Homo sapiens: one gene and its partners. The protein of the gene in region 2 interacts with the protein of the main gene of each other region in a pairwise test. Each region holds a gene or a part of one and is shown on either strand. Other genes may lie near its edges. The genes, in order: LZTFL1, TRIM68, HUNK and UBE2U.

Region 1 (3,568 bases), on a different chromosome or scaffold from region 2:
GTGGCGTGATCTAGGCTCACTCCAAGCTCCACCTCCCGGGTTCACGCCATTCTCCTGCCTCAGCCTCCGAGTAGCGCCTGCCACCACGCCCGGCTAATTTTTTGTATTTTTAGTAGAGATGGGGTTTCACCATGTTAGCCAGGTTGGTCTTGATCTCCTGATCTTGTGATACGCCCGCCTCGGCCTTCCAAAGTGCTGGGATTACAGGTGTGAGCCACCGTGCCCGGCCAAAAATGTAATAGTTTTATTGGGAAAGTAGAACTGATGTTCTAGAAATAGAGACCAGAGAATATTCTCCTGTGTGCTACAGGTGTCATACTGGGTAGCAGAGAAGACTCAGTTGTGTGTGGATAACAGTAGGTGAGAACAGGCTCTTGGGTAAAGGGGTACCTAAGCTGGGCCTTGAAGGATGAAGACCAGTTAAATTGTAGAGGAAAGAGAAGTGAGTGTGTTGGGCAGGAGAACAGAACAGGCAGTGGTCAGACAGGAGGCGGCATGACTTGAAACAGAGTGCAGTGCCCTCTGACTGGGCTGATGTGTTTATTTGAGTCTACTGAAAAATAACACAGATGATTCAAATGTTTGAGCTGTATAAGAACAAAAGTGTTTGGCCTCACCTCAGTCAGAAGCATCTGTGGGCTTGAGCATGGTACTGAAGTGAAGGAGTTCTCAGGATAAGGGGCAACAGTGTGCAGTGTAGGCTGAGAATAGACCCAGGATTTGCAGGACCAGCTAGGAGAAAGTTGGCAGGGAAGCGGGTCTTTGGAAAAAAATTTGAAAACAGAAAACAGAGGACTGAAAGAGGGAAGATGTGTCTGAGAAACTGAAAGAAAAGAAACTAGATGTCTTAGATCCAAAGCTGACTCACAGATACTGAGGCTGATAGGCTGGATGAAATTGGGATATTACCAAAATATCAGTAGTACATTTTTGAGCTATTATGTAATTTAAATTTAAAAATTAGATTTTTAAGTGAAACAAGTAATAATTTCAAATATTAAAATATTTTGGTTAATATAATAAAATTTGAATTTACTCACAAAGGAAATTTTAAGACTTCAAGAAGAGAATGAGAAATTGAAGTCAAGGTTGAAGACCATTGAAATACAGGTAACTGAGAAATGTTTTGACACAATTATTGAACTGCCTACAGATTAAATACTGAAAGTGTTTTGTTTAAACTTCACTATAGGCTACAAATGCACTGGATGAAAAGTCAAAACTAGAAAAAGCACTGCAAGATTTACAGCTTGATCAAGGAAATCAAAAGGTGAAACAAGTTTTAGCTACCTTTCTCACATTTTCTAAGTAGAATGAAGTTATAAACTTAAAATTAAGTCTTAGTTACTGCTCACTGTACCCCACCCCTGCTACTCCCTGAGACAAATGCCTCTATTGTCATGTGTTGGGACATTCTTGCCCCCAAAAGGCCTGGTGAGAACCAGTGACCTTCCCTCTGTCCATCCTCTAGGGCAGAGGGGACAGTACATAGCTCACACACCTGCAGTTTCCCTGGCATGCAAGATATTCTCACATTTATTTTTTAAGTTTTTCTACAATCTTCCTGGTATGCAAGATATTCTCACTTTTTTTTTTTAAGTTTCCCCTCTCACTTTGACATCCAATTACAGTGGAGGGGAAAGAAAATGAAAAGAAAAGTTTTTAATTGGTTTATATTTGGGTTTTATTATACTGAACATTACTTAAGTTTGCCTTTGATGAGTGTGACAAAATGATTATGAATCTGCAGATGCGTCTGTACCCGCCGGCACCATAGAGTACAATGAAATCCAGTGTTGTAGTTCTTCATGCTTGTCTGAATGTAATGACTGAATGTCACTCCGCCTGCGGGAAGTCATTGTATGTACAGTCTGTCTCCTGTGGACTTTCTGTTGAGTGTGCATGCTGCAGTATGATTTCCTGTGAGCAGGACCATTTGGGTAGATATTCAGTACAGCATTGGCTTTTCTAGTGGTCATACTCTCATTGCAAATGTCTGGTAAACAAACCCAAAATCTGCTTCACTGGGCTTTTGCTAATCTTTTCTCTATGAAAAATTTCAAACATACACAAAAGTAGAGAGAATAGTATAATGAACCCCCATGCACTCTTCACTCTATTTAGCAGTTACCAATGCATGGCCAGTCTGGTTTCATTTGTACCTCTACTTTCTTCTTCCCACCAGCCATGTTTTTTTGAAGCAAATCTCAGACGTTGAACCATTTTATCTGTAGATATTTTTAAAATAGGAGGATACTTCTTATATAGCTAATGATTTTCAACCATTATATGCCAATGACAATAGATTTATAAAAACACGAATGTTCCAGAACCGCTTTATAATTTCTCCTAAGTCAAACAATTGCAAACACATGTGGCTGATGAATTTGTTTAAAAGCTTTTTGGGGCTTTGCTCCAATTTTACTTTAAGATTTTGGACACAAGAACAACCAGTGAATACGTGCTTTTATTAGTTGCAATGAAAATCTTTTTTTCAAAGACCAGATTTCAAAAATGAGGAAAGATTTTTTTTTTCTTCTGTTGAAAGTACTTTTTTTTTTTTTTTTTTTTTTTCTTTTGAGACAGGGCCTTATTCTGTTTCCCATGCTGGAGTGCGGTGGTGCAACCATGGCTCACTACAACCTTGACCTCACCGGCTCAAGCGATCCTCCCACCTCAGCCTCCCAAGTGGTTGGGACCACAGGCATGTGCCACCATGCCTGGCTAATTTTTTATATTTTTTGTAGAGACGGGGTCTTGCTCTGTTGCCCAGGCTGGTCTCAATTTCCTGGGCTCAAGTAGTCCTCCTCCCTTGGCCTCCTAAAGTATTGGAATTACAGGCGTGAGAGCCACTTGAAAGTACTAAGTATTTCTTCATCTACATATTAACCAATTGTAGACCATTTTACTGTCTTATCAGTACAAATGTTTTTTCTGTCATGAATCTTATCCAGTCAAAAACAAGATCCAGGAAGAGAGAAGATCCAGTGCCTGTCTTATGCTATAGTTGTCAAAGTATGCAAAAATTACACATATCTCATGAATATAAAAAACTTAAAATCTTAAAAATTTAGAAAACCATGTAATCAGTAATTGTGCTCTCATATTATTTCCTTGTAAATAATGACTAAAACATATGTCTATTAAGTTTTTGGTATAAATTATATTACTTTTATCATTTTTTCTATCATTTTGAAGAATTCAAACTTCTTTGAGGATTTTTTTAAATTTGGCTTTTCAAAATGAAACCTGTTTGCCATCTCAACCCTGGTACACACATCTTGGATGGAAATACCAGCAGTTCACAAATCATATTTTATGTATTTGGAATTCAGTGGCTACTGAGTGTCGGCTGTGTGCAAGACACCACGTACCCAGGGCTGACAATGGACTGGCCTGCTGGTGACTCTGAAGGGGCTGGCACTTACCTAGGCTGGCAAGGGAGGCTGGCATGCACACAAAACATACATCATTTTTTTCATCTCCTATGATGTTGAATCACCATTCTAAAACAGTTATTTTTAGAATATCAACATGAAATTACATGCATGCATTTATTTTTCATAGG
Region 2 (3,568 bases):
TAAGTGCTATTCCTCAGAGGGAACAGACATCGAACTGGCAGGGAGTTTCTCTAGGGGAAGGGAGACAGATACCAAGAATGGAGAGATGCCATGCAGAGGTAAGGAGAAGCCTATGGAAGGATGGAAGAGCAGGCTGAGCTTTGGCTGAACTGGCCAATTTCAGGCTCCATCTCAAGACTCTCGGGCTAGAGGAGAGGGCCTGGAATGACGCCAGAGCTGCCTGAGCACTGCCCCACCTATGATGCTACAACAGACCAGGTCATCCACCAGCCAGGGATAGGGAAACAGCAGGTATTAGCTGGGGAAACACAGGATCCATGACCAGCTGGCAGAGGGCTGGCAGTCCCTACTGAAGGGTAACTGATGCTCTCTCCTGGAGTCTCAGTCTATCTTCAGCTGTCACTCAGGGTTACCAGGAAAACCTACTACTCACCTGCAACATCCAGCGGACAGGCCTCTGCGACCTCTCTTTCAACTCTGCAATCATCCTCCACAGGACCTGGCTCTGCTGGATGAGCTCGCTATGGTTCAACTCCAGTTTCTGCATGGTCTCCGCTGCCTCCCGCTGTAGGCTGGCCAGAGCTGCTGCTACCTCTGCCCCCAGCTGCCGATGTGGTGGCTGCTTTTTCTCTAGTAATCGCTGGTATTTTTCAAACTCCCATACAATACTCTGTTTTCGGGTTTCCACCTGTATCTGTGGAGCCAAGATGGAAATCAGCACTGATACTTTCAGTCACCCAGTATCGAGCATACTGACATATGCATACACACATACTCTGCAATGGTACCAACCACGTGACAGGCTATGCAGGGGCAAAGATAAAGGATACTATTTTTCCTAGCTTCCTGTTCTCCCAGCTCCACCACATGCTTCTAGGTCTCTATTGTCACTCTTATTGACTCCAGTAGGGTCCAGGATATTATCTTAATACTACATGCTCTAGACTATTTTCCATTTTCAGAATAATGACAAGATGTGTTACATTTAAGTCTCTAAGGCAGTGTAACTTAACTACACTGTTAGGTGGTTCATTTTCATGTTGATATTATATCTGTTCAACATGCTGTTTTAGATTGGTTCAGTGTTACTTTCTGTTGATCAAAAGTTCTAGTAGTTTGATACTTACTGGCCTCAAATTTATTTCAGAGGTGATTTTACAATATTTTAATAACCAGACTCTTAGCAAATATTCTCTAACTTGGGAAAATGAAAGAGAAACTCTGCTTTACAAGCATGATATAAGCCATGCCACTGTGAGCTGACACACGTGAGCATGTGCTTTTCCTTTCTCATATAGGAGGATACAAGACCAGAGGTTATCCCTACATCCCCATGGAGAAACTGGAATTAAGAGGTGACGTGGCCTACCTAAGGCCTGGGACAGAGAAAGCAGGGATTAGAACCCTAGGCTCTGTGATTTCAAGCCTCACATTCTGCCTCACAGTGATGAGAATGCTACCCTAGGCCAGCTCCAGGACCACACAGGACGACTGACACAAACTCCTTTCCCCACGAGGCAACCTGCCTTCCAGGTGGCAGTTCGTTTCCTTTCACCAACTTCAAGCTTCCAGGCCTCTTCTTGCTCTTTCTTCAGATGTTCGAGGGCCTCATGAAGTTCCCACTGCAAGAGACAAAACCCTCATGAGGCCACCTCCGGCAGCCTAGGCTTCCTAGCACTGGGAGGCTATGGGAGAACCAGAGTCCTTCAGGCAACCGGCCACAGTGAAGGCTGTGGGGAAAGGGAATGCCACAGAGGAAGCAGACTCTGCCCAGATGACATCCGAGGTAGCTCTCTGGGCTGAGAATCATTTCAACTCCCACAGTCTCTAAATGTCTGTAAACTGGAAGAAAAGGTCCATTTACAACCTCTCCACAAAAGTACCTTGGACTTTCCTTTCCATGCCAATTTTTATCCTTATCTTATTTATTTTTATCTTACTGTCTGCCAGAACCTTGTTACTCCAAATGTGGTTCAAGTGGATCAGCAGCATCCACATCACCTAGGAGCTTGTTAGAAATGCAGAATCTTGGCCTTACTTTAGACCTACCAAATGAGAATCTCAATTTTAGATGGATCTCCCAGGTGGTTCATATGCTTATTAAGGGTAAGAAGCACTTTCCTAGAATAGTAATGCAAGGGATTTCTACTGAAAAGCATAAACTGTGCAGAAACACCATTTAATTCTGCTATTTTAACAAAATAGCAACTATTTTGTTAAAATATATCAAGTGTCAGGTATATTTTCAGCTCTAAATATGCATGTGATACTTACAATCCTCTGAGGCTGGTATTAACCTTATTTTATAGACAAGAAAACTGAGGCTTAGAGGGTGACCTACCCAAAGTCATTCAGGTAATAAATGGTTGGGCTGGGATTTCATCCAGCCCTTTACCCCTATGTTATACTAGCTCCCTTTTCTAATAGTCTCAAAAACAGAATGAGTTAGTAAATACTTTTCATATTTTAGAAATCCCTCCCATATAGGAAAAAAGCTAATTCAGGGGATTTGTCTTACACTCTCACCTTCCTATTTCAACTCCAAAAAAGAGAGTTGAGACCAATGCTGGATCACTGGATCACAGAATCACTGAGATAATGGTTCCGATAAAGATGTCATTATGGGCATCTGATGAAAGAGTAAAGAGAAGCCCAGAAGCTGGAAGTTGATGAGGTTAGCTACAAAAAAGGAGTCCCAGGTTTGTCAGAGATGACTTGTCAAACAAACAAACTTGGGAGAGGAGAAAGTGCAAGAAGACTTGAGTCACAGCCTCTGATCTTCCTTTCACTAACTGGACCTGAAGTCAGAAAGGACCTGAGAAGACTATATCAGATGACCTCTCTCAATCTTGTGACTCACCCATAGTTCTTTCCACCTCTAAAATAAATTGCCATGTTTTCAACTTTCTAAGCCTCACTTTTGTCTATAAAATGAAGGAGGGAAGTGATCCATTCAATGCCAAATGACTACTTGCAGCACTGCTAGGAGGAGTTTGCAGGTCAGGTGTAGCCTTGACCATCTATATAAGAGCCTCATGCCTAAACTCATCCAAGGCATCCAGAATCTCAGTTAAAACCCAAACTGTTTTCCTTCACATTCTCATTACTGAAATCAGCCTTGGGTTAGGAATTGAGCCCTGTTAGGATGTAGGTGTAGAGGAAGTGGGAGAGCAGGAAATCAAGGAAGGTCATGAATACAAGGAAAGGTATAGCTCTCTGTATCAGATTCCAGGGATCTCTGGGTGTCAGGAACCAAAGGAGTTAGCTCTCAGTCTGTGGTGCTGGTGGTCAAGCCCTTGATCTAGAAACAGCCAACTTGGGGCCGGGGTTAGACTGGAGTGGCCAGCTTCCATCTCTCACCTTGTACTCCCAGGCAACATCCTCCATTGGCACAACACTGTGGGCCTCATGCTCTGGGGACTGGCTGCAGGCCTCACACATTATCAAGACATCCTCTTTGCAGAACATCTTCAGCTTTTCCCCATGGCGCTCACACAGGTCACCCTTCAGCCCCATTCCTGGATGTAGCCTTAGCAGACGGACTTTTTCTACAACATTGGCCAGCTGC
Region 3 (3,568 bases), on a different chromosome or scaffold from region 2:
CTGTGCTGGGCCCACTGGGAACCCCGACATGCAGGGAATTCTTGCCCAAATAGGATTCACATGAAGAGACTCGCTGCTTCCCCAGGTGCCCACTCCCCTTCCCTCCCATCTTATGTTTCTTAAATGATGAATCTCACTTCATTGTTGCAATGACAGGAGATGTTAATTGGATGTAAAATTATTCCCCTGGACCCATTGGTGGACTGCGGGTAAGGATGGTGGTTCTTTGGGTGGAGAAGGAGGCAGGGGAGAGATGTCTGTGTTGAAAAACTTGGTTTTCCCGGGATGCTCCTCCCCAGCGGGGAGAATCAGTGCTCCAGGGATTGCGGGCATTGGGAGAAATCTGGATTTTAGTTCACTCAATTGCTGGCTTTAAAGAAACAATGGTGTCATTCATAACATTTATCTCCCAAATCCAGCACCTTTAATGCTTAACTAATAGATTTGGGTTTTAGCAGATTGTGGGGATTAAAATGGTTGTGTGTGTATGCTTGACTCTGAGAAAGATTGCTAAATTAAAATGAGTCCTCATTCCCACTCTAGTTTTGGGTATTGCCTAACTAAGGCCAAAACAAAGATGACCACAGCCTCAGGCTATTTACAACCTGAAGTTCTTTTAAAAGGTGAGCTACTAAGATGATTTTGGCCTGGGGAAAGTTTCCTCCAGTGAGCAGAGCTGAGGAAAAGGAGGTCATTAAGCCTCCAGTGTCCCCCACTGTGGGTGACCCAGGGAGGCCTCTCTCCCTCATTAATTCCTCTTTTCTTGGGGTGTGTACATTTTGGATTTAGAATTTCACTTTTCTCCTGTCCTATCTATTTATTTTTTAAATTTTTTATAAAGACAGGGGTCTCACTGTGTTGCTCAGGCTGGTCTCCAACTCCTGGCCTCAAGTGATCCTCCCACCTTGGCCTCCCAAAGTGCTACAATTACAGATGTGAGCCACTGCACCTGGCCCATCCTTTTATAAAGGATCCATTCCACATTAGGAGGGGAATGAAGTCATTAATACTGTAGTGAGAAGTACTCCCAGCCCACGTGGAGCGAAAGGATTCAGGGCAGCTTGTCTTGGGAAATCAGTCCATGAAAAAGCTGAAAGAGGGCATAGGGAAACAGAAGTTGAGAGGGCACCCCAAGTTTGGCCTGCTTCATAGCTGCATTCTCAAACTGTGAGAATTAGTTTTGGGTGATTTGTGCTAAAATCTAGGGCATTGCTAGTTGAAGGCATTTGGTATGGGGGTGTGTGTGTGTGTGTAGCGTGTTGTGTTTCGACTTGGTTACACTTCCAAAAAGCTTTGGGTGAAATCCTTCATGGTTTGCTGGGAATCACTGTCTGAGTCCAGATGACAAAGGGAGCCAGTTTTTCCCAACTTTCCTTTTAGGTTTCAATTTGATCTCATCAAGAGGCTGCTTTTGCCACCACTGCCTGTAGGACAATCTTTTGCCTGCTTTTCCTCTGAAGTTGTTTGTTTAGAAGCCATTTGAATCTAGATGGCTCTTTTACTGCTTGTAAAGGAAAGATGGCTTGCGGCTGAGACCTAATTGTGTCCTCCTTTGAGTTAATGCAATCTCTGTTAATCTGGCTTTAAAAATAAATAGTTCACTTGGCCATGTGAAACTCTTAATAGGTACCTTCACAGTCAGGGCTGAGTGTCTTTGACCAAAGTTGATGATTAGACCAGGGAAAATGATCACAAAACCAGATTCTGAAAAGTACCACTCTCTGGCTTTGAGACGAAGAGCAAAGCTGTTGAGCAACAGTATGGGGTAATGACTTTGAAACACCTGGAGTGGTTGTGCTTGCAGAGCCTGGTATTGATTTGTGATACCTATGAGAGGCGTGGTCTCTGGCACATAACAAGTGCCCCCCGCCCTGGCCCCCAACCAGACAGAGTGACTTGGGGGCTGCTGCATGATCAGATAATATCATCTGTCGACAGAATAAGGAAAGTGACTTACAGAAAATTGAAGTGAGGTCCAGAAACAGGACAGACGTGGTGGCTCATGCCTGTAATCCCAGCACTTTGGGAGGCCAAGGTGGGTGGATCACTTGAGGTCAGGAGTTCTAGATCAGCCTGGCCAACATGGTGAAACCCTGTCTCTAATAAAAATGCAAAAATTAGCCAGGTGTGGTGGTGCATACCTGTAATCCCAGCTACTTTGGAGGCTGCAGCAGGAGAATCGCTTGAATGTGGGAGGTGGAGGTTGCAGTGAGCCTAGATTGTGCCACTGCACTCCAGCCTGGGTGACAGAATGAGACTCCATCTCAAAAAAAAAAAAAAAAAAAAGAGTTTAAGATTTTAAATTTCCATAAACGTTAAACTTTAAATGAAGCAACTTAGAAACCACGTATAATGTTTCTAATACAGACATTATAAATAATGTTTGTAAGGAATCAGTAAAACAATGGTCCTTTATCATCAGCAATATATTTGGATAATTCCTTAGAAGTTTGGTTTAGTGGCTGGACGCGGTGGCTCATGCCTGTAATCCCAGCACTTTGGGAGGCCGAAGTGGGTGGATCATTTGAGGTCAGGAGTTTGAGACCAGCCTGGCCAACATGGAGAAACCCCATCTCTACTAAAAACACAAAAATTAGCTGGGTGTGGTGGTGCACACCTGTAGTCCCAGCTACTTGGGTGGCTGACACATGAGAATTGCTTGAACCCTGGTGATGGTTCGTGATACCTACAAGAGGCATGGTCTCTGGCACATGACAGGTTATTGTGTTTTGTAAAAAATTGATAAAAGTTGAAAAAATATAGTTGGAAAAGCTGAATCGAGAAAAGAGTAGGTGTATCTCAGGTATTGAGCCAGTGTTGTAGGCAGGCAAACTACAGAACAAGAACAGACAGTCCATGCCACTGTTACCTTTTTTGTGATTGAGTCTCACTGAGATACAAAGTTGAGTACATAAAATGATTGGTTAAGATGTTGAAATATCTTGTTCTAACCCTTGGTTAAAGAATAATAAGCCGGCTTGTCACTTCCATCAGAACTATTTTTAGGCTAAGAGTAAGGGTTGCCTGCTTACTAAGTTGCCAGTAATCATGCTTAGAGCATGACAGTGCCAGATACCTGGAGTGAAGGAGTTACTAAAAATACGATTTACTATGTTTTGCAGAGCAAGAAATATGACTAATTTTAGAGGTGGCCTTTTGGCAGATCTGTTTTTAGCAAGTATTTCTGAAACAAACAGGTGCTAAATCCTGTATTTTTGAAGTGCTAGAAGTTTAGGGGTAATCGCTCTGAGGAACAAGAAATGCTTAGAGAACTGGAAATTCCTATTAATCCTTGGCAGGGACTTCTTGGCAAGAAGGAGGCATTTGCAAAGCACCTGCTTGGTGAGCCCTGTGTGACAAGGCAGTGCCTGTAATTTCGAGGATTGCATTCTGCAGTTGCAGGCGGATTCTTTTGAACTTCCTGCCCTGCCTCATCTTTTTGAAGTACTTGTGAATGATGGAAATTGGCACGTAGGGCCTGGTTCCTAGTGTTCATTGATACAGGTCCCACGGACTTCAAAGGGTGCTTTGAGTCAGCGCAACAGTGCAGAAACGGTGCCCACGGAGA
Region 4 (4,101 bases), on a different chromosome or scaffold from region 2:
ATAGCTATTCAAATAAAGCCCAAACTTCCTACTGTATAGTGCCCATCTTTATCACACCCCTCCCAGGCTCCTCCACAACCTCCCTGACCTTCCCTTGTTCCCTTTTCAAGACAAGCTCTTTCCTGACTCAAAAATATCTTGTTTTCCTCTTCCTAGAACTCTCTGCCCTCAATATTTCATGTAGCAGGCTCCTTCTCATCTTTCATGTATGAGTTCAAAACCCCATTCCTTACAGAGGCATTTCCTGACTACCATTTCTAATCCTTAATGACCTACCCCAATCTCTATCATGGTACTGTTTTATTATTGTCCACATAACGTTTATCACCATCTGAAATCATGATTTTTGTTTTGCATACTTGTTTATTGTATATTGGAGCCATAAAGACATTTACTTCATTTGAATCTTTCAAGTAAAAAAAAAGTATTTAATAAATATTTGTAAAATGAATGGACTAAATGAACATCCGGATTCTATAAAATTAGTAAGTAAAAAGTAAAAAAAGAAAGTATTCTGAACAAAGATGCCAGGCTTTGTAGTTGGCGCTGGCAATGGAACCGTGTCTTTCAGTAGTTCCCACTCTGGTGAAGACAATAGACAATTGTGATGCCGTATGGCAAATGTTAACTAGGAGGCAAATAGAAGGTCCTGTGGGATCACAAAAGAAAGGATCCCTTAAAGAGTCGTTAAAATCTGAAGGATGAGTGAGTGAAGGGGAAATGAGGGCTGAAGGGGTGGAAGGAATGTGGTAAACTCCTAGGTAGAAGGAACAGCAGGTGCGAAACTGTGCGGGAAGAGATGGGAATCAGAGAAATTTTAAGCAGTTCCCTGTTCCTGGAGCACTTTCCCAGGGTGATTGTAGGGTTTGATGACATAATAGCATGCACACTACTGTGAATGGTAACTCGCCATGTAAGTTAAGATATTGTTATGCAGACCTGTACCTACCAGTCACTTACTATATCTTTTGATAGTCAAAGAAAAAGGAAGGATAATTTCGAAGAAAGACTTCGTGGGACGGCTTCTGTGACTTACATGCTGGGTCCTGGGACCTCACCCCATCCTCTACACTAGTTTTGTACAGTCCATGTTCGTGGCCTGAGAAGGCGTGGTGTTGCCTTGACCACGAATCTCATTGGCCTTTCAAAGGGGAAACTGTTGTAGGATTGGCTGTGGAGATAGCAAGAGGCCTGCCCCCTGTCGCTGATTGGGTGAGAGCGGCCAACCCCCTGCCTCCGTCTCTCGGCGGCCCCACGGGGGCCTGTTGGTTGGCAACCGATTTGCTTCCTCCGGTGCGTGGCTGCGGGGTTGCACCTGTGAAGCGAAGACAACCTGCTAGGACCCTGATAGGCGTACACCTCTCACTCCCACTCACGCGCCGACGACATGGGCTTGTCTCCGTTACTCATCCAAGTTTGTCTTGAGACTGGGCTGTGAGCCGGCACTGCAGTGAAACGCCGCAGATGAGGAAGTGCCCAAGTCTTCCTTCGGGAAGTTCTCGTTTAGAGGAGTCAGGAGAAAAAGTCATTGTTATATCCCAACTTTAGAAGCCGCTTATCTTGGTACCGTTCTGAGGTTCTAGAAAGCAAGTAACTTATATCAGTTTACTAAGTGTGGGAAAGTGACCCATAACTTCAAACATCTGCCTCAGAGTAAACCTGAGGCATTTGGGGACAAGTGTCAGACCCTCCGCTGCCTATCATGCACGGCAGAGCTTACCTCTTGCTGCACAGAGACTTCTGTGATCTCAAGGAGAACAATTATAAGGTAAGTACTGGGCACGTGGAGAGATGTGTTTCATTGTGCAATAATTTTTAAGAGGCAGTTTAACCCATTTTATTCTATAAGTAGTAATTTAGTTAAACCTGATTTGCCACTACAGTATTGTTATTTAATAAATCCATTTCACTGAAGTAATGTGTTTCATATTAATAACAATTATTATTACTTCAAAATAATAATGCTTAACAATATTGAACATATTATGCAGAGTAATTTATGTGGATCTAGGCACTGAATATCAGGGTCTGTCATGTAGTTAGTGACTAGTAGGTGCAGGCTTATGCTCATTAATTATAATACTATACAATAAGTAGTATTTCATTTTACTTACCAAAAACCTAAGCCTCAGAAATATTCTGTAAAGATTTTGCCCCATGATTCCATTACAGGGTTTTTGGACTTCAAAGCCCTAGTTCTTAATTCCTGTGTTCCACTGCTTACTGTCTAGTGTACTTTTACCAGCATGACACATAAATGCCTTCCCTTTATAGTTTTAACACAAAAGAAGCAATGTCCTTGGGCTTAAACGCCACCAATGAGGTTATCAATGTCCATGGCTGCCACAGGCTGATTTACGGAAAATGAAAAATGGAAGAGGGGGCGAAGAGGGAGTGCTTAAGAGAAAGAACAGAAAGAAAGCTGTCCATGAAAGGTATAGAGTGCTTCCCACAGTTGCTTCAGGTGTAGTTCAGTGGCATTGTTCATTTTTTACCTCTGCTATAAAAGTACTGCATTCACTGGAGATGTTAGGAACAATTATGGAGTCCAACAGCGAACATTCCTGGGGCATGGACCTAACATTTGATATTGTTTCTGCTCATCCTGAGCTCTGTAGTTCTCTGTTGAAAGAGAATCCAATGAAGGAATATGTAAATATAGATAATAGAGAGACAGGGCTCACCCAGACAAGCACTAACATACTTAATAACTATGTGGATGCTCAGAAGTGTTTTTATGTGTTTGTAAGTGTGTTACTTAACGTAATTCATAAGGTTTTCTATGAAATACATTCTTGTCCCTCCATTGGAACAACTCCTCAAGTATAGGAAAACTTTGCTTTTATATACAAGTGTAATTTTGGATTTTTTCTTAATGAAAATGTTCCCACTTCATGCCTTTCATATAGCATTCATATAGCTCTAAAATGTTTTGAAGAAACATGCACTTTCCAACTATTTCTTTCTTTTAAAATTTGAATATTAAATTGGTTATTGATTTACACAAACAGTATATAAGCCACACATTCTAATCTTGACTCTCTAGTCCCACTTGTGATTTCCACACTTATGATTTATTTTTAATTACTATTGCATATGTTTTCTGGGATCTATATTAACTTCCGTGAAATAAGACATGTAACACTTCCCCAGAGCAGCAAATAAATAAACTTATCAAGGAAAGAAAATTTAGAGTTTTTAGAATTCAGTGTGACCTGGTATATGATTTTCAAAACTTCAATAAATACTTAATAAGTTTTTTCTGATTTAATTTTGTTTTTAACTTCAAGGGTATCACTGCTAAGCCTGTAAGTGAAGATATGATGGAATGGGAAGTTGAAATTGAAGGTCTACAGAATTCAGTTTGGCAGGGTTTGTATTTTCAAAACCAATCTATTTTTTAAAAAAGTCTTTATACCATTATTAGCCCATCCTCTTTTTATGTAGGATAAGGTCGCATTATATAAATTTCCTGAAATTCTTCTTCATATGCATAAGTTTGCATTATACCAGTTGTCTAAAATTCTAAAAATATTCCCATTTTTTTTATTTATGACTTTTTTGCCATGTGTCAACATAGATGGAAATTTGGGGTATTTTTCTTTATGCCAAATCTTAATTTTATTACATTTTTAAGAAGCAGACACAATAGAGCATATCAATTGAGAGAATATCGTCTGCCTTCCGTGAGATCAGGGAATAACTATCAAAATTCCTATTGGCTTCAAAACCCCACAGTTACTTCTCATTTTTTCCTTTATGATTTTCCCCCAAATTTTCATAAATCAAAAAATCTCAAGAACACTAAGCCACTATAAACTTTAATGCTCATGTTTTCTTTCAATTATGGATTAATAAGATAGATTCCTTGAGTGAGGTAGGGGAGACAAACACATCAGCTGATAATTACAATAAAATATACATTATTATGGATTTTGAACAGAATGCTAAAGAGGAAGAGGATTAGTTAATTATGCCTGAGGGAGTCAGGAATGTCTTCCCAAGGAGATCACATTTGAGTTGAGTCCTGAAGAATCTGCCAGGTTCAGAAGAAGGATAAGGAAATTCGGGCAGAGTAAACAGCACAGCAAAGACTTGTAG

What was found.
Region 1: the proteins of TRIM68 (region 2) and LZTFL1 interact in binary tests that used the Homo sapiens proteins (3 or more experiments, as listed by UniProt).
Region 3: the proteins of TRIM68 (region 2) and HUNK interact in a two-hybrid assay, tested with the Homo sapiens proteins (one large-scale study listed by BioGRID and IntAct).
Region 4: the proteins of TRIM68 (region 2) and UBE2U interact in a two-hybrid assay, tested with the Homo sapiens proteins (one large-scale study listed by BioGRID and IntAct).

Annotation. Positions count from the first base shown.
Region 1 is NC_000003.12:45,828,615-45,832,182, reverse strand, and holds part of LZTFL1 (leucine zipper transcription factor-like protein 1), read left to right. Parts: intron 1-1,044; coding exon 1,045-1,110; intron 1,111-1,192; coding exon 1,193-1,270; intron 1,271-3,567; coding exon 3,568-3,568. UniProt on the Homo sapiens protein: Regulates ciliary localization of the BBSome complex. Together with the BBSome complex, controls SMO ciliary trafficking and contributes to the sonic hedgehog (SHH) pathway regulation. May play a role in neurite outgrowth. May have tumor suppressor function.
Region 2 is NC_000011.10:4,601,719-4,605,286, forward strand, and holds part of TRIM68 (E3 ubiquitin-protein ligase TRIM68), read right to left. Parts: coding exon 3,361-3,568; intron 1,623-3,360; coding exon 1,527-1,622; intron 695-1,526; coding exon 434-694; intron 1-433. UniProt on the Homo sapiens protein: Functions as a ubiquitin E3 ligase. Acts as a coactivator of androgen receptor (AR) depending on its ubiquitin ligase activity.
Region 3 is NC_000021.9:31,875,993-31,879,560, forward strand, and holds part of HUNK (hormonally up-regulated neu tumor-associated kinase), read left to right. Parts: intron 1-3,568.
Region 4 is NC_000001.11:64,202,349-64,206,449, forward strand, and holds the start of UBE2U (ubiquitin-conjugating enzyme E2 U), read left to right. Parts: upstream 1-1,274; 5' UTR 1,275-1,702; coding exon 1,703-1,768; intron 1,769-2,192; exon of another isoform or gene 2,193-2,435; intron 2,436-3,290; coding exon 3,291-3,372; intron 3,373-4,101. UniProt on the Homo sapiens protein: Catalyzes the covalent attachment of ubiquitin to other proteins.